Homo sapiens: one gene and its partner. Changing the gene in region 1 together with any one later gene gives a genetic interaction. Each region holds a gene or a part of one and is shown in the gene's direction. Other genes may lie near its edges.

What was found. A genetic interaction does not mean that the proteins touch.
Region 2: changes in RAD54L (region 1) and NDUFA9 together harm fitness more than expected from each alone (negative genetic interaction), as found in Homo sapiens cells (one study listed by BioGRID).

The regions. Positions count from the first base shown.
Region 1 is NC_000001.11:46,263,368-46,273,444, forward strand, and holds part of RAD54L (DNA repair and recombination protein RAD54-like), read left to right. Parts: intron 1-4,091; coding exon 4,092-4,242; intron 4,243-7,291; coding exon 7,292-7,418; intron 7,419-9,098; coding exon 9,099-9,173; intron 9,174-9,304; coding exon 9,305-9,435; intron 9,436-9,987; coding exon 9,988-10,077. UniProt on the Homo sapiens protein: Plays an essential role in homologous recombination (HR) which is a major pathway for repairing DNA double-strand breaks (DSBs), single-stranded DNA (ssDNA) gaps, and stalled or collapsed replication forks.
Region 2 is NC_000012.12:4,686,340-4,695,780, forward strand, and holds the end of NDUFA9 (NADH dehydrogenase [ubiquinone] 1 alpha subcomplex subunit 9, mitochondrial precursor), read left to right. Parts: intron 1-598; coding exon 599-769; 3' UTR 770-7,978; downstream 7,979-9,441. UniProt on the Homo sapiens protein: Accessory subunit of the mitochondrial membrane respiratory chain NADH dehydrogenase (Complex I), that is believed not to be involved in catalysis. Required for proper complex I assembly.

The DNA.
Region 1 (10,077 bases):
GAGTTAACCTCCTTTGTATACCCCAGAGGTTCTAGTGGAGAGGTGGCTGAAAGACTTGGCCCTATCTGTCAACCAGTTGTCAGGCTAGGCTCAGCTCTGGGTACTGTAGATTAGCCCAGTTGTCTGAGGAACTTCAGAGAGGGGACAGAGGGAAAAAGCTTGCTTTTGGGTACCATGCTTTCTAGTTGTGAGCTATTTTCTGGTCAGTCATTGGCGGGTCTTCAAACTCCCAACTTCCTGGTAGGAGTAGGGAACTTACCAGGTTGAGGTGAGGTATGCATGTTACTGCCCTGTGGTTCAAGGCCCTGACATCTGCTTCATCACTGTGGAGGGGGACTATGCCAGGAGCCAGGTCCAAAGCATTGTGGGAGAGGAAGGCAGGCTGTAGCTGTTGAGCCTTTGAGGATTAGGGAGCATCTAAATTTTTTTCTACTTTTTGTTTTTTTTTGAGACAAGGGTCTTGTTCTGTTGTCCAGATGGAGTGCAGTGACGTGATCTTGGCTCACCGCAACCTCTGCCTCCCATATTTAAGTAATTCTCCTGCCTCAGCCACCCGAGTAGCTGATATTACAGGCGTGCACCACCACTCTGGCTAATTTTTGTATTTTTAGTAGAGATGGGGTTTCACCATGTTGGCCAGGCTAGTCTCGAACTCCTGGCCCCAAATAATCTGCGGCCTTGGCCTCCCAAAGTGCTGGGATTACAGGTTTGAGCCACCGTGCCCAGCCTTTTTCTACTCCTTAGTGTTTTTTTCTTCCCCACTCTGTCCTGTTTTATGAGCTGACTCTGTGCAGGGCACAAGGGATGAGGCTGCCTCTTATCACACTGCAGCCCCTTGGCTGTTTACCTTTCTACTTGTTTACCTTTTATTTTGTCAACTGTCAGAGATCTGAGGAACCAAAAGTCCTGAAAAGATGGTCACCTTACTCCAGGGAAGGAGAGGGTTTGTCCTGTTCAGACCCTGGAAAGGGAAGGTGCCATTTCAGGCTTTCATGTTCTCAGCTCCCACAGCATCTTCCTCCCAGTAACGCTTTTCTCTGGAACACAGTTTTTCATAATAACTTCTATGTACAAAATCTTTGATCCTCAATCAAAAGACACGGGATCAGCTCTGGCTTTGCCACTTACAAGCGTGACTTTCCACAGATGAGACTGCTCTGAGATTGTTTCTTCATCTGTAGAGTGGATGGCACATGGGCTACTTGAAAGGGATATGATACAGATCAAGAGAGGATATATGGGAGCACTTTGTACAAGTGTATAAATAGCAGAGGGATTGACGTCATCGTCATCTCAATCTTAAAGATTAGGAGACAAACTCAGGGAAGTGCGTAGTGACTTGCCCAGGTTCTCCTAGCGAGTACATAGTAAGCTGGAATGTGAATGCAGGTGTGAGATTCCAAGTCGTGGCTCTTTTTCCTATCCCTCTCTGCCTTGGATGCTTGGTGCAGGAAGAAGCTTGCCTTGGGTATGGAAGGGTTGTCCCTGTGCTCCTCATTGAGACCCATGTGGATCCTTAGTGACTGGTCCAATAGGGAGCTGGGGTTGGCTTTCTCTTTTGCAGAGACAGGATAGTGTGGCAGCCCATTTCATTCGCTGGGTTATTTATTAAGTGCCTTTTATGTGTCAAGCCCTGGAGATCTCACAATGCTGTCCCTCAGGGAGCTTCAGTTTAGAAGATCTAATTGTTGGTGCCCATTTCCCCTGGACCTGTTGGGTAATTTCCTCTGACTTTCAAGTCTCATTTCCCTCTTCAGTTCAGAAGTCTAAGGCTTTTTTTAGGGCTAGTACTTGGAGCCTCTAATAATTTTTTTTTTCTTAATTAAATTTCTAGGCCAAATGCGGTGGCTTACACCTGTAATCCCAGGACTTTGAAAGGCTGAGATGGGCGGATCACTTGAGGTCAGGATTTCAAGACTAGCCTGGCCAACATGGTGAAACCCTGTTTCTACTAAAAATACAAAAGTTAGCCCGGCATAGTAACACATGCCTGTAATACCAGCAACTCAGGAAGCTGAGGCACAAGAATTGCTTGAACTGGGGAGGCAGGCACATGCCACCACACCCAGCTAATTTTTGTATTTTTAGTAGAGACAGGGTTTCACCATGTTGGCCAGGCTGGACGCAAACTCCTGACCTCAGGTGATCCACTTGCCTTAACCTCCCAAAGTGCTAGGATTACAGGCATGAGCCACCATGCCCCGTTGGTTTATTTAATCTTTAATAGCAACATTGGTCATTATTTCATTCTTTCATTCAACTAATATTCACTGAGCTTTGTCCTATACACTGAAATTATACAGGCGAATCTGACATAGTCTCTGCCTTAAGAAATCCTAGTCTCTGCCTAGTTGAGAAGATAAAGTACAGTAGAGTGTGATTAGTACTCTAGTATATATATTATGGATGAGGGCAGAGTGGTACAGTGTCCAGACTCAGAGTCATACAGACCTGAGTTCAAATCCCAGCTCTGCTACTTTCTACCGGCATGATTTTGGATAACTGTTTACCTCTCTGAATCTTAGTTTCTTCATCTCTAAAATGGATAATACAATTTCCATTCGTGTGGATTACAGAACAGAATACAGGTAAAGTGTTTAGTTAGTACCATGCCTACCACATTAAACGGGTTCACTAAATAGTAGCAGCCATTACGTATATAGTGCCACAGGAGCACAGAGTTGAGAGAGACAAGCAGCCTGGAGTCACTGAGGAAGGCTTTGCATAGGAGGTGACATCTGAGGAACTTGCCTGTGGAAAAGAGCTCTAGGCAGAGGGGTGGCATGGGCAAAGAGACATAAGGAAAGCCAGCATTAGGAGTGACAAGGTCAGGATTCCTGGACCGTGACAAGCTTGGAGAGTGTCAGAGAAGTTCACTGGGGCCTCATTGAGAAGGGCTTTGAATGCTAAGCTAGTGAGCTTAAAGAGCTTGGACTTGATGCTATAGATGGAAGAGTCAGTGAAGGGTCTGCATTTAATTGCGTTGTCAAAGCCTGACCCAAGGGAGCAAGACTGATTGCTGATTCTTGGTTGAGTGGTTGAGTTTTGTGTGCCTTCCCCAGTATGGGGCTGGATGTAGAAAAGGTATGGGCCTAATCTTGCCCATGTAGTTCTTGGAGAAAGAGGGAAGGTTGTCCTTTATGATTTTCTTGAAAAAGGCTTAAAAGAAGTAGTAGAGGTGTGGAGAGAATGGGAGGACAGGACAGGGAGAATAGAGATTGGGGAAGAGATGTGAAGGGAAGCAGAGGGAAGCTCTTTAGCTCTACTAGCTGTGAGGATTCTGGTGGGACATGGAGCCTGGTCCAAGTCCCTTTAACACTGATGGCCCAGACAAGGCCTGGAGTCTAATACAGAAGGCGTCTGGCTCAGAAGGTTCTGAGTTGGGTAGGCTGATGTGGAGGGGAGGACTCCCTGAAAGCATGGGTTTGTCATATGTCCACATGATCTCTGAAGAGTATAGGTGGGCTGCCAAGGCTCTGGAGGTGGGGCAGGGAAAGGGATGGAAAGGAACAGAGGGAATCTTTGCTTTATGGGTATAGCACTGGTCTGGAAACAGGAAGTCTGTCTTTTGAGCCTAATATTCTCCATAGTTAAGTGGGTGAACCCTCTCTCATGCTGCCCCCTGCCTAGTTCCCAAGGCCCTAGAACCTGTAATGTTTTTGTTTTTTGTTGAGACAGTTTCTCACTATGTCACTATAGTGGTGGCATATGCCTGTAGTCCCAGCTACTCAGGAGACTGAGGTGGGAGGATTGCAGTGCACTCACGGCTCACTGAAGCCTCGACCTCCTGGACTCAAGCGATCTTCCCATCTCAGCCTCCCAAGTAGCTGGGGCTATGGGTGTAAGCTACTATGCCCAGCTAATTTTTGTATGTTTTGTAGAGATGGGGTTTCACCACACTGGCCAGGCTGGTCTGGAACTCCTGGGCTCAAGTGATCCACCTGTCTCGGCCTCCCAAAGTGCTGGGATTACAGGCATGAGCCACGGCGCCCGGCCTGGAATGTTTTTGACTCCTCTTTTCCTGTCTACATGAGACTTTGCTACCGTATAGGGAATGCCACATTGCGCTCTGAATAAGGATTCTCTTGCAGGGACACAGGCTCAAGAACTCTGAGAATCAGACTTACCAAGCCCTGGACAGCTTGAACACCAGCCGGCGGGTGCTCATCTCCGGAACTCCCATCCAGAATGATCTGCTTGAGTATTTCAGCTTGGTACATTTTGTTAATTCCGGCATCCTAGGTAAGAATCTAGCCTTGTTTGCCACATCAGAGAGGAGCCCTGCCTTGTCTTTGGGAGTATAACTCCAGCTGAGGAGAGAAAGAAGAGAATGCTAGTTATATGTGGGTCACTAGGCATTCTTGTAGGAAGGCTTCTCTTGTCAGGGAGTAGCAAAGCCATTGGGAGGCCTTGGATCTGCTGAGCAACTCAGCAAAGCCCATGTTGGCCATTTTTCCATTGCAGAGGTGGCAGGGGCTATACAGGGAATGGTGTCATGATGAGCTGAGGGTGGAATTATTATTTTTGTTCCTCAGATCCTAGCTCCCTTAGAAGAGTTTTGGCCTCAGAGCAAGCTCTGTCTTGGGCAGACGTGTGTGTTTTAAAAATCATTTTAACCATTTTTAAATGTAACAATTCAGTGGTATTAAGTACATTCACTTTGTGCAACCATCACCATCATCCATCTTCAGATTTTTTTTTTCTATTTGCTAAACTTAAAATCTACCCAATAACTCCTCTACCCTCCCCTCCCAGTGCTTTGAGAGGCTGGGGTGGGAAGATCACTTGAGGCCAGTTCAAGACCAGCCTGGGCAACATAGTGAGACCTTGTCTCTACAAAATAAGAAAATTAGCTGGGTGTGGTGGTGTGTGCTGGTGGTCCTAGCTATTCAGGAGGCTGTGATCATGCCACTGCACTCTAGCCTGGGCAACAGAGCAAGGCCCTGTCTCTAAAATAGTAATAATAATCAAAACTCCTCATTCCTCCCTCCCCTAATCCCTGGCAACCACACATATATTTGTGAAAGGGTGTGTTAGTGTCACCCCAACTTGCCAGTGCTCAAGAGTAGGCAGAGAACCTGCTGAGTGGCAAGATTATGACCAAGTGAACACATTTGTGTAACCACCATCAGATGAATTACTAACACTCTCTCAGCAGCCCCTTTTCTAATCACTATCCTCTCCTTTTGTCCCGGCAGCAAACTCCTTCCTGACACTATAGGTTGGTTTTGCCTATTTTTGAATTTATGTTAATGAAATCATATAGTATGTATTCCTTTACATCTGGTTTCTTTTGTTCAACATGTTTATAAAGTTTATCCACATTATGTGTAGCAGTAGTTTGTTCATTTTCATAATTGCATACTATTGCATGTTATGAGTACACTACAATTTATTCTACTGGTTTGGTTTTGTTTGTTGAGACAGAGTCTCTGTTGCCCAGGCTGGAGTACAGCGTTGCAGTCATAGCTCACTGTACCCTCAACTTCCTGGGCTCAAGCAATCCTCCCACTTTGGCCTCCTGAGTAGCTGGGACTACAGGCATATGCCACCACTATTGGCTAACTTTTAAATTTTTTATAGAGATGGGGTCTCATATGTTGCTCAGGCTGGTCTTGAATTCCTGGGTTCAAATGATTCTCTTGTATCAGCCTCCCAAACTGCTGGAATTATGGGCATGAGCCCCTATGCCTGGCTTCCATCTTTTTCTGTTTGGATATCTGGTTCACCCTACATCATATATTGAAAAAACCGTTCTTTCCCCCATTGCTTTGCAGTGCTACCTTCTTCATAAATCAAATGTTCATATATGTGTTGCTCTATTTATGGACTCTATTCTGTTCCTCTGGTCCGTTTGTCTCCTTGTGTCAGTACTTCTCTGCTTTATTTACTGTGGCCTAATAAGTCTTGATATCCATTAGTGTGAATATTCCAACTATAGTCTTTTTTTTTTTTTTTTGACACAGGGTCTCGCTTTGTCACCCAGGCTGGAATGCAGTGGTGAGATCATGGCTCACTGCAGCCTTAACTTCCGGGCTCTAGTGATCCTCCTGCCTCAGCCTCCTGAGTAGCTGGGACAACAGGCACACACCATCATGCCTGGCTAATTTTTGTATTTTGGGTAGAGGTGGGGTTTTGCCATGTTGCCCAGGCTGGTCTTGAACTCTTGAGCTCAAGCAATCTGCTCAGCCTCCAACTATATTCTTACTCCTTAACATTGTCCTAGATATTCTTGGCCCTTTGCATTCCCATGTAAATTTTAGAATCAACTTGTCAATTTATACACCTACTGCCTGCCATACCCACCAAAAAACTCTAACTGGATTTTAATTGGGCTGTATTGAAACAGATAAATTCTGAAAGATCTTTCATTTTTATAATACGGAACCTTCCAATATATTAATATGATCTGTCTCTCAACTTGTTTAGGTCATCTTTAATTTCTCTCAATGTGGCCAGGTGTGGTGGCTCACAACTGTAATCCCAGCACTTTGGGAGACCAAGGCGGGAGGGTACCTTGAGCCCAGGAGTTCAAGACCAGCCTGGGCAACATGGCAAAATCCCATCTCTACAAAAAAAATACAAAAGTTAGCTGAGTGTGGTGGCATGTGCCTGTAGTCCCAGCTACTTGGGAGGTTGAGGCTGTGGTGAGCCATGATTGCCCCATTGCATTCCAGCCTGGGCGACAGGGAGAGAACCTGTCTCAAAAAAAAAAAAATTGGCCGGGCACGGTGGCTCATGCCTGTAATCCCAGCACTTTGGGAGGCTGAGGCGGGCAGATCGCGAGATCAGGAGTTCGAGACCAGCGTGGCCAACATGGTGAAACCCCGTCTCTACTAGAAATACAAAAATTACCTGGGCACGGAGAAGGGGTGCCTGTAATCCCAACTACTCGGGAGGCTGAGGCAGGAGAATTGCCTGAACCTGGGAGGCAGAGGTTGCAGTGAGCCGAGATTGCACTCCAGCCTGGGTGACAGAGCAAGACTCCATTGCAGGAAAAAAAAAAAATCCACTCTGGCCATGTTTGTCTTTTTAGTGGACTATTCAATCCATTTACATTTACTCTAAGTAATTATATATTTGGATTTTAACCTATCATCTCACTTTTGGCCTTTCAAGTCTTCACTGCTTTGATACCTCTCTGATCTGTTAAACAGAAATTGGCCTATATTTTGTTTAGCCTTGTTCTTGGTAGGAAGGCTGGTTTGTGAGAAGGTAGTCTGCCATCACTAGCTGTGGGAAAATCATTCCTTTTCCACATTCTTCTGTTTTCCTTCTCTCCTGTGTTTAGGGACTGCCCATGAATTCAAGAAGCATTTTGAATTGCCAATTTTGAAGGGTCGAGACGCTGCTGCTAGTGAGGCAGACAGGCAGCTAGGAGAGGAGCGGCTGCGGGAGCTCACCAGCATTGTGAATAGGTAATGACCTTAAGCGAAGTCATTAGAATTGCCTCCCAAACCATCCATGGCCAATCCTTTGGGGGCTTTGCCTCTCTAGAGCCCTCAAAGGCTGGGATTCTAGGAAGGGAGTGGGTTCTGTGTCCTAACTATGGCCACTGAATAAACAAGGGAGTCTTGGAGGTGAAGTGCCTGCTTTCTTTCTGGCTTGGGCTCTGTGGTCTGGTTTTGGTCTGTTTATCAGCCTGCTGAGGAAGCTTTTCTCTGATGCTGCTGGACTTCTTGAGCAAAGTATACCTTGGAGCATTACTAGTATTTCAGAAGCTTCCTGTCAGTTGGTCTCAGACCCGAAACATTAGGCTTCTCTTCCCAGGCCCCATAGTCATTCTGTGACAGGTAGGAGAAGATCTGAAAGGTGGTTGTGGCTCCCAGGCTAAGGGGACTGACTTTTTCATGGGAGTTACATAACCCAGAGGGTAGGCACATTCTGGACTCCTTTGTCCAGAGGTGGTATGCACACTTGATAGGTTACATTCTAAAGAGTCCTCCTGCCCTTCCCAACAACTGCCTGGCTACCTGGCTACCTCTCCCTACCAATTTTAGATGGCAGGACGGGCATGGTGGCTCACGCCTATAATCCCACCACTTTGGGAAGCTGAGGCGAGTGGATCACTTGAGGTAAGGAGTTCGAGACCAGCCTGGCCAACATGGGGAAACTCCCATCTCTACTAAATATACAGAAATTAGCTGGGTGTGGTTGGGGTGCACCTGTAGTCCCGGTTACTCTGGAGGGAGAGGCTGGAGAATCGCTTGAACTCGAGAGGCAGAGGTTGGAGTGAGCTGAGCTGCGCCACTGCACCCCAGCCTGGGTGACAGAGCAAGACTCCGTCTCAAAAAAAAAAAATTAGATGGCAGGAAGAAGAATTGGTGTTTTCTTAAGATCTGCTTCTTAGGTGCCTGATACCTATCCTTCATAGTCTTCCCAGGAGGTCTATGCTTAATTTCATTTAGCCTGGGGCCATGTAGCAGCGGGCATTTGGACAAATGCAAGCAGAAACTCCCCTAAGGACTTAGTAATTTACAACTTGCTTTTCCTGTTAGAGCTCCTGTATCAATGGGAAGCCTCAGTCTTCTCTTGAAGACTAGGCAACCTATTGAAGGGGAAGAGAAAGTGCTGCCTGTCTAAGCTAGCATGTTTGGAAGGTCTCTGTTCCCACAATTGAGACCCTGATACAGATGTGTTTGACATAGGTCTGATGACTTTTTTTTTTTTTTTTTTTTTTTTTTTTTTTTTTGAGATGGAGTCTTGCTCTTGTTGCCCAAGCTGGAATGCAATGGGGCGATCTCGGCTCACTGCAACCTCCACCTCCTGGGTTCAAGTGATTCTCCTGCCTCAGCTTCCCGAGTAGCTGGGTTTACAGGTGCCTGCCACCACACTTGGCTAATTTTCGTATTTTTAGTAGAGATGGGGTTTCTCCATTTTGGCCAGGCTGGTCTTGAACTCCTGACCACAGGTGATCCGCCCGCCTCAGCTTCCCAAAGTGCTGGGATTACTGGCGTGAGCCACTGCGCCTGGCCGAGTCTCTGACATTTAATACTGTAAAAGAGGGCTAGTCTTGGTCCTTTGGGTGGTAGCTTTTATTCCAGTAGTTAGCATGGCAATTTTACCAGCCTCTTGCCTTTTTATCCTGTTTTCTCTAGATGCCTGATACGGAGGACTTCTGATATCCTTTCTAAATATCTGCCTGTGAAGATTGAGCAGGTCGTTTGTTGTAGGTACTGAACTCAACTGAAAGATGTGGAGTGGGTCAAAGCCTAGCTCCTGAAGCATGGCTGGGCTCTCAAGGTGTTCTCAGAGGGCAGGAGGGTGGTCTAGCTTTTTCCACTGACCCAGCTGCCTTTTTTAGGCTGACACCCCTTCAGACTGAGTTATACAAGAGGTTTCTGAGACAAGCCAAACCGGCAGAAGAATTGCTTGAGGGCAAGATGAGTGTGTCTTCCCTTTCTTCCATCACCTCGCTAAAGAAGCTTTGTAATCGTGAGTTGGGCTTGTGTCCTGGTGTCCTCTGTGAGAGTGAGCAAGGGAGGGTAGGTTCCTGTAGTGGCCTGGCAACCCTCACTAAAACTCGTCCAGAGTCATCCTCATAGAGGCCACATGTGATTCCAACCCTACCCAAGGCATGAACCCTGCATTGTGGAGTCTGTTTACCAGACCCTTTGCTTTGGAAAATTGAACTCATCTTCTGTCCAGCCCATGCTTGATGACCTGGGATGTGTCGACTGTTTGTGAGTGCTTGCATGTACACACGCTCATATACAATGTTGGGCAGGAGGAAAAATAACAAAGAAACCTTGCCTGCTCTGTTATAGCTCCCTTCTTGTTGGGAGAACACATTAGTGAGTGAGATTGTCCATCCATCGTCCCAGATGGCACCGACTATATCCTGTTGGAATTTGGTAGGATGAAGATCAAGCAAGTCTGATGTTGAGGAAGGCCTTTTGGGCTAGGCTTCTAGAGGGAGTTCTAGTGAACACTGAAGTGGAAACTTCAGAAAGCAAAGTATCTGGGTTTTGTTTTGTTTTCTCCCAGATCCAGCTCTAATCTATGATAAGTGTGTGGAAGAGGAGGATGGCTTTGTGGGTGCCTTGGACCTCTTCCCTCCTGGTTACAGCTCTAAGG
Region 2 (9,441 bases), on another chromosome or scaffold:
TAAACAAGATGGGTTTGGTTTTCTAGCTCTACAGTGAGCATTAGTCAACCAGGTTGAGTACAGCTGGAGCAAAAAAAGTTACTTGTTTTTTTTTTTTTTTAATGGGCAAGGAACAAATGTTGTGTTATCTCCTAAATTCAAAGTTAAAACTGAGTCAGAACGCCCGTGCTCAGAAAACAGGGGCGTGAGAGGACTGAGGAATGGACCAGCTCTGCTTAAGCCCTGATTTTATTCCTAAACCCTCCTGTTCAGCCTCCCCTGGCAAGTGTGGTGACTTGTGCTTCCCTGCCCTAGATTTATTTCTGTTGAAATCTGTATATAGAATGGCTCATGTAGTGCCAACATCCTGTGCTCGCGGCTGCCACTGGGGACCTCGATCTGATACTTGGTGATCTCGCCCTCTTTTGTCTTAAGCCCTCTTTGTGTGTTCTGCTTTTATAGTGATTTGCATGAATCGAAAATTGCCACATATTCTTTGAAAGCAATTAAGTCTCAATAATAGGACTCATGCCAGCTTGAATGTTTAAGTGCCTGCTAGGATAGCACTTTGTTCTCAGCCAGTTTTCAGCATTGTCTGTGGTCCTTTGTTTATCCAAAGATGCACATCACAGACATGAAATTGCCTCACCTGCCTGGCTTAGAAGACCTTGGTATTCAGGCAACACCACTGGAACTCAAGGCCATTGAGGTGCTGCGGCGTCATCGCACTTACCGCTGGCTGTCTGCTGAAATTGAGGATGTGAAGCCGGCCAAGACCGTCAACATTTAGTGCCTCCTGAGCAGCTCTTGGTTTTGGCGTCTTTTGGGTCGGCCCATGTGGTTTGAGCACCCAGCCAGGCGGTCTCTTTAGAGGATCCTGTACACAGTTCCACTATTAAAACATTTCAGGTTGAATTCTGCAGTATTTTCTTCCTTGATTTACAAAATGAGAAATGTAGTCACTTAGAACTTGAGCATGATTTTTGTTAAACATATTTAATAATGATATATATACTATTTATTCTCTGAAATGCCAGAGAGTTTGAATTTTCCTATGACAAACCACTTCTAGCATACGTTCTAGAAGACAAGGACCCTTTTTAATGTCAAAGTATTGTAAAGACCCCAAGTGATATGTGATTGTTTTTTAATTTCCATTAAATGAGAGAGCATACAGTATCCCCTAACCTGAATGTGTTTACACTGAAGGTGTTTTTAAAATTTATTTTAATAATGTCCATATGCCTTTTAAAAATAGTAGTACATATATAGAAAAACATTGTCCATAGATTCTCAAACCCCTTGCAGTAATTCCACAGTCTTCTTGGATCTGAGCTATCTGAGGCCAGCCCGATGCCCTTAGTACCACATCTGGATTATTTCAGACACATAGGTGGAGATAGATTCTCTTCACATGCAAAGGAGATGCTTCAGCTTCTATGCCAGCAGTGCCAGCACTTAGGAATTATGACCTTCTAATGAAGTTCTTAAAATTGCAGCCAAGACCCAGATGAACATTTGGTTTAGTGTTGGCAAATCCCACCAGTACAGTGTGATTTAAAACTCCCACAATTTGTGGTGAAGCCAACATACCACCATCCTAGGTGACCCAGGGTTGGTCATTGTGTTTCACTGGACTTCAGCCTCCTGATCTATATTTGGGACAGGGATGTCAGTAAAAACGCTGTTTGATGAGGGAATGCCCGTCTCCTTACAGAGAGAAAGGTATATCAGTGTTGAAGGTAAGTTCTCCACCTGCCCTTTCTGCCTGCATCAGAATCTTTTTATCCCAAAACGGTCAACAGTGAGCTACTCCAAGTGTGGTCCATAGATCACCAGCATTGGGATCATCTTGGGGCTTGTTAGAAATGCAGAACCCGGGCTGGGCACAGTGGCTCACACCTGTAATCCCAACGCTTTTGAGTTGCTGTGGTGGGACGGTCGCTTGAGGCCAGGAGTTTGAGACCAGCCTAGGCAATATGGCAAGACCTTGTCTCTACAGAAAAATTTCAAAAAGTTAGTAGGGCATGGTGGCACGCACCTGTAGTCTCAGTTATTCGGGAGGCTAAGGTATGATGATTGCTTGAGCCTGGGAGTTCAAGGTTACAGTGAGCTATGATAGTGCCACTGCACTTCAGCTTGGACTGAAGATCCTGTCTCAGAAAAAAAAAAAAAAAAAGGCAGAATCCTAGGTTTTGTCCTGTCCCAGGCGTGTTGAATCAGAATCTGCATTTTAGCAAGGTCTCCAGGAGATTTGTATGCACATTACAGTATGAGAAGCACTGCCATACAGAAGAGCTGTATCAGAGTTCAGTGTGATCCCTGTTATTAATCCAGGTTGCTGACCCCACCCCAGACCTACTGAATCAGAGTCTCAGGAAGGAGGGCCCAGGAATTTTAGTTTTATTAAACATTCTAGTTTATTCTCCTGTACACTAGTATGTCAGAATCAGCGTACTAGGGAAAGGAACACAAACCCAACTTCACGTTTTTTCTTCAGATGCTGTCTGTTATTTTGGATGACACCCCTCCTGGCCATAAGCCAGCCATTAGGCACAGAGATGGGTGGATTTAATTTGAAAAGGAACTATAATTCTATAATGCACAGTGTCCTCTCTTAGAATATCTACACTTTCTTTCCTTTTTTTGATTCTTAAAAAAAAACTTATTGATACATAATAGATGTAAATATTGTCAGGGTATATGTGGTAATTTGATATATTCATATAATCAATCAGTGTAATTGGGATATCCATCACCTTAAACATTTACCTTTATGCTAGTAACATTCAAATTACTCTCTTCTAGCTATTTTGAAATGTACAGTAGATTAGTATTAACTCTAGTTACCCTACTGATCTATTGAACACCAGGTCTTACTTCTTCTGTCTTAACTGTAATTATCTTCATTTTCTAGCAATGCTATTTCTCATCTCTAACTTGTATCATCTCAGGATGCTGTATATTTCTTTTATTTTTTATTTTTTATTTTTTTATTTTTATTGATCATTCTTGGGTGTTTCTCGCAGAGGGGGATTTGGCAGGGTCATAGGACAATAGTGGAGGGAAGGTCAGCAGATAAACAAGTGAACAAAGGTCTCTGGTTTTCCTAGGCAGAGGACCCTGCGGCCTTCCGCAGTGTTTGTGTCCCTGGGTACTTGAGATTAGGGAGTGGTGATGACTCTTAACGAGCATGCTGCCTTCAAGCATCTGTTTAACAAAGTACATCTTGCACCGCCCTTAATCCATTTAACCCTGAGTGGACACAGCACATGTTTCAGAGAGCACAGGGTTGGGGGTAAGATCATAGATCAACAGCATCCCAAGGCAGAAGAATTTTTCTTAGTACAGAACAAAGTGAAGTCTCCCATGTCTACTTCTTTCTACACAGACACAGCAACAATGTGATTTCTCTATCTTTTCCCCACATTTCCCCCTTTTCTATTCCGCAAAACCACCATCGTCATCATGGCCCGTTCTCAATGAGCTGTTGGGTACACCTCCCAGACGTGGTGGTGGCCGGGCAGAGGGGCTCCTCACTTCCCAGTAGGGGCGGCCGGGCAGAAGCGCCCCCCACCTCCCGGACTGGTCGGCTGGCTGGGCGGAGGCGCCCCCCACACAAACACTGAAGCCGTAGCATTGACTAAGGAAACAATTTTACCATCCTAAGCTAGTGGATGTCACCCTCTCAGTGTATGGAGGTTGCATATGACAAGTAACTGGGAGCTGGGCATAAGATCTAGGACACTCATATCCAGGGTGATTCTCTTCATAAGGAGGCATGGGCTGAGTCTCCATTTATAGGGGCTGTCCCCATAGAGACTTCAAGCCACACCTTTCTAGGGATTCAGGTTGCACATTACCTGATTCTCACAGTTGATTTGAGCCTGCAAGACTGTAAACCCATCCCATTATCATGTTTTCTTCCTCATTTACCTACATTTATCATTAAACCTTTGTGATTCAGCAAATCTGTTTACCTTCTGATTCTACTTTAAATTCCGTTCATGTTCTTCCTTGGCCCTCCTGTGTATTTCCCACAGCTTTGCTAGGCCTTAAGATCATCTCACATTCTTCATCCTAATGACAAAAATAAGTTCTATGGGCTGGGCGCGGTGGCTCTTGCCTGTAATCCCAGCACTTTGGGAGGCTGATGGGGGTGGATCATGAGGTTAGGAGTTCAAGACCAGCCTGGCCAATATGGTGAAACCCCGTCTCTACTAAAAAATACAAAAAATCAGCCAGGCATGGTGGGGCCCACCTGTATATAGTCCCAGCCCAGGAGGGAGACTGAGGCAGGAGAATCACTGAAACCTGGGAGGCAGAGGTTGCAGTGAGCTGAGATCACACCACTGCACTCCAGCCTGGGAGACAGAGGGAGACTCTGTCTAAAATAAATAATAATAATAATAATAATAAAGGTACATGATGGAAGCATATATGGGAATATATGCAAAGATCTCTGAGAAGATAAAGAAAGGTCTCTGGAAGGATTAGCAAAAACTCCATAGAAAACGGATTTTTAAAGCTGCATCTTGATGTTAACCTGCTGAAATGTGTGTGTTGGACCGGGGTGAGGAGGAAGCAGTCATTCATGCTGTGGAAGAGAACAGCATGAGCAATTGCAGTGGGGCATGAATGAGTGGGTGGTTATGAGTGGGAGGCAGAGTCCGTGAGTTGGGAGGGGCACAAGCGAGTTTAACCTTTACCTTGGAGGTGATGCAGAGCAGTTGAGTTCCATACAGATTTGGCTTCGAATATGAGTTCCACTACTTCTTAGTTGTGAGATTGGACAAGTCACTTGACCTCTCTTTGTCAGCCTCAGTTTTCTTGTTTATAAAATGGGGGTGATAGTAATAACTACATGATGGGATAGTGATGAGGAATTAAATGAGATCATGCATGTAAAATGCTGAGCCCTGCACATAATAAGAACTAAGTAAATGTGAGCCATTATCATTTAAGTAGGGAATATCATGCCCATCTGAGTCCATACATTTGTTTCCTGACTTAATAAAATAGCTGCCGTTCCTGAGAAGGAGGGATTCCTATTTCCCAAATGCTGGAAACAGGGACTTATAGAAGGTAAATTGCCCCATTAGTAAGTAGCTGAATTGGTTTTCCAACCTGGATCTTTCTGGCTACAAAACTGATGCCTTGTTCCAGAAAGGATTTAAGGATGCTCAGGAGGAAGACATTCCCAGAGTTACACTCTAGAAGGTCTTGGAGTGAATGGGAGGTATAGTGGAATGGAGGGCGTATTTGAAGAAACCCTTCCTGTGAAGGAAAATCCAAGAGAATGAAGTAAGGAGAGACTTAAACTTGAAAAGATTCTTGTGAGAGAAGGAAAGGGGCTATTTACAATAGAGAAGAGACTAGAAGAAAGTCTGAACTCACCTCCCTGGAAGCAGAGGGTGGTGGGGTTTTTGAGGGCTGTGTGAGAGTGTAGAAGTACTGAGAACAAGAAGCCATGTGGATCCTGTGAGGGCCAGGATGGGGGGGGGGGTCATGGGTCATCTGTGTTTGCTGATTGGCTTTATCCAAAGGAAGAGTAAACATCTCATCCTTATGACAGGAAGTAGTCCTGCAGCTTGGAGCAAGGTGCCCACCAAAGTTAGGCACATCCCACAGCAAGTGGGAGAAAGGAGTGCTATCTCCTTTTGAGGTTACATTTCAGAGAATGGTTCCCCTGGGTCCTTGAGAAAGACAGTCCTGGGTTGTAAAACTGGCAAGAGGCTGAGGGAAGATGTATGTCTCAAAGGGGAACTCAAATAATTTATAATTTTAAGTTTTCTGATGCTCTAAGGGAAGTCAGGTGCCTAATATTGGTGATGTGGTTTGGATGTCCCCACCCAAATCTCATGTTGCAATGTAATCTCCAGTGTTGGAGTTGGGGCCTAGTGGGAGGCGATTAGATCATGGAGTAGATTTATCATGAATGATTTAGTACCATTCTCTTGGTACAATCCTCAAGATAGTGAGTTCTTACAAGATCTGGTCATTTAAAAGTGTGAGGCAACTCTCCTCACCCCTTGTTCCTACTCCTACCATGTGAGGTGCTTGCTCCCTTTTCACCTACTGCCATGACTGGAAGCTTCCTGAAGCCTCCCCAGAAGCAGATGCCTATGTGACGCTTCCTGTACAGCCTGCAGAACCATGAGCCAATTAAACCTCTTTTCTTTATACATTACCTAGACTCAGATATTTCTTTATAGCAATACAAGAATGGCCTAATCGTGTTAGGAAGAAGCCTGTCTGAAGTGCAGTCAGGCTGAGGGGAGCATGAAGGCCATCTTGATGGGGGAAATCTTTTAGTACCCTAATGCGAGCAGATGATGATGTTGTTGGCAGAGAGGGAGGGTATAACTTGTGGTGCCTAGCCCTAGAGGGAATGGAAGGGCCAGAATCCAGAGCATAGGTGGGATTGTGTGGGCTGACAAGTAATAGTATATGATAGCATAGTATATGATAGCAGTAGTATACGATAGCATGTGTGTGAGTCCATTTTGTATTGCCATAAAGGAGTACCTGAAGCTGGGTAATTAATAAAGAAAAGGGGTTTATTTGGCTCACTGTTCTGTAGGCTGTACAAGCATGGCACTAACATCTGCTTGGCATGAGCCACCACACCCGGCCAGAATTTTATTTTTAGTGACTAGGCTTTCCTTTAAAACCTCTGTACTAGGCCGGGTGCAGTGGCTCGCGCCTGTAATCCCAGCACTTTGGGAGGCTGAGGTGGGAGGATCACTTGAGCCCAGGAGTTTGAGACCAGCCTGGGCAACAGAGTGAAACCCCATCTCTTTAAAAAAATAAAGCACTTGAAGCAGAACTTTTTATCTGTCATAATCACTGCTATGTCCACAGCACCTAAAACAGTCCCAGACATCTGTTGAATAAATGAATGAATGAGGTGGGAAGTCTTTCTTTACACTTAGATGAAAACTCCATCGGACCCCAAATTGTTCTGGTCTTGTTCAGGTAATAATTTTAATTCTATAATAAAATCTCAAGTTATAATAGGCTCAATTTGATAATTAGGATGCCCAGTGTTGTGTAATAATTAAAGCGTTAAATTTCCTCTCTGCCCCACAGCTGGGATCCAAGAAGACCCTGTGGCTGGCTACTCTTCTGTATTTTCATTTATCTCCACCCCCAGTTTACCAGCAGTGGTTATCCTCTCTCCAAGACTGGGCCAGGGGTGAGAAGGGCAGTCTTACCAGGCAAGGGTCTTTGCTGACAGATGTCTGGGCCTTCTTGACAGCAGGTGTTTAAAGCTGAATCTGGTTCTACTTTCAGGAGAGTGATGGTTTGAGATGGTAACTGAAGTTGTAGAAGTAGATGTTGAGGATGAAGTATCATATTAATAAAACATTGCCCATTAACACCTTAGCACAAATTAAAACTAGCTATACCTCACTGATAAGGACCTGAATGGCTAAATAATGATGAATGATTTATGGATGTAGCGGGGAACTGGGTGGAAGCAGTAGTAAGAAATTTGAATTAAGGAATCGTAAGGGAATCGAGATTATCTAGTTTCCCCTCGACATTTTATAACTGAATAAACAATAAAAAACAAGAGAAGTGACAGCTTTATAGCATCTGATTGGGGAAAAACACATCTTTTCTGGGGCTAGACAGTCCATAAATAGGACTTGGAAATGGAAGTGTAGGGGGAGATCCCATTGTACTTCAGTGGAAAACTATGCATTGTCTGGAATCTAGACTCTGGACAAAGACCCTTCCTTCCTGGCTGTTTGATTTTGATTCTATGGGAGCTATCTTGCAACTCTGTAAGCTGTAGGTAACTGATAGCAGAGCAAAATAATTCTTGTCTATAGACGTGTACATTGTGTCTTAGCGTAGATTCACCCGACCTCCTTCCCCAGTTTTGCTTCTATTAGCACATTTATTTCAGTAATTTTGATCTTTGGATTCTCCTTGGACATTCCTCACTGAAAAATGAAATAAAATTTTTGGCATGTGCTCTTCTTTTGCATCTGTTTGAGAGCTGCAATTTTTACCTTCGTTTCAAAATTATCCTTTAACCAAAGGGACGGTGGTGAACTAGGCAGGCGGAGCTGCCCACTCCAGGTGGTTGTTACCAGGGGAGGGCGCTGGCCAGTGTTGCCAGATCTCCACTTTTTCAAGGGAAGCTGAAAAATCTCATTTTTGTCAATATGTGAAACTTCTTTATGTTTCAATATTGGCAACTAATTGAAAAAAAAAAAAAAAGTGTGCCTAAGAAAACTCACCTGTGGTGGGATCTGTTCCATTGGCCACCTTGTTGGGTCAGGGAAACAGGACATCTGGATCTAAGAAGTGCTGTATGCTGACCTGAAGTGGACCAAGTACTCCTCGTGTATTTTCTCATTCTCACCACAGCCTTGTGAGGTAGATATTGTCATGCCATTTTACAGGACAGCCACACATATGCCAAGTGCCAGAGAGTAAATGGCAACAGCAGGACCAGACCCAGATTTACTGTCCAGTGCAGTTTTGCTGAGAGCGGTGAGAAGTGGAGGAGGCATCTAAAGGGCTTGCTTTACAATGTTGCCTGGAGCCAGTCCACATCTGAGCCATGGGAGGTCACAAGAAATGTGAGTTGGGAGATCCTTTAACGGAGTGGGATGGGTGGATTTACAAAGAAGCTTCCATAACCCGCCACGTTCTCCAAGTAACCTTGGGTGTGAGCTCCATTTGGCTTTTTTTTTTTCAAAGCAGGCTTTTTAAAGGCAAAATGGGGAACAAGGAGTGAGCTGATACAAAGTTGTTTGTCAGGAATTCTCATTGGTTTATAGAAATAACATTGGTTAGTGATTGGCTATGCATTGTTGAATTACAGGGTATGAGCTACTTGTGTTAGTCAGTCTAGAGTCCATACAGCAGGCAGCTTCAAGAGGTGATTACTTAGCTCAAGGTGGGTGAGTGGGACATGACTGCTGTCTCATTTCAAGGGCCCTCTGAGCCAGGTAATTTAGAGGAGGCTCACATTCCTCAGATAAAAGTTTCTTTTCTTTCTCATCCAAATGACTTTTATCAGTGATTACTAGGTTTTGAAGCCTAATACTTAGATTCTTTCTCTAGGAGAGTCTGAATCTAATGGTTGTAAACCAAAATAAAAACAAAACCATGAGGCCGGGCATGGTGGCTCATGCCTGTAATCCCAGCACTTTGGGAGGCCAAGGTGGGCAGATCACCTGAGGTCAGGAGTTTGAGACCAGCCTGACCCACACGGAGAAACCCCATCTCTACTAAAAGTACAAAATTAGCCGGGCTTGGTGGCGCATGCCTATAATCCCAGCTACTTGGGAAGGCTGAGGCAGGAGAATCACTTGAACCTGGGAGGTGGAGGTTGGGGTGAGCAGAGATTGCGCCATTGCACTCCAGCCTGGGCAACAAGATCAAAACTCTGTCTCAAAAAAAAAAAAAAAAAAAACCACCACGAATAAATTATTAGGA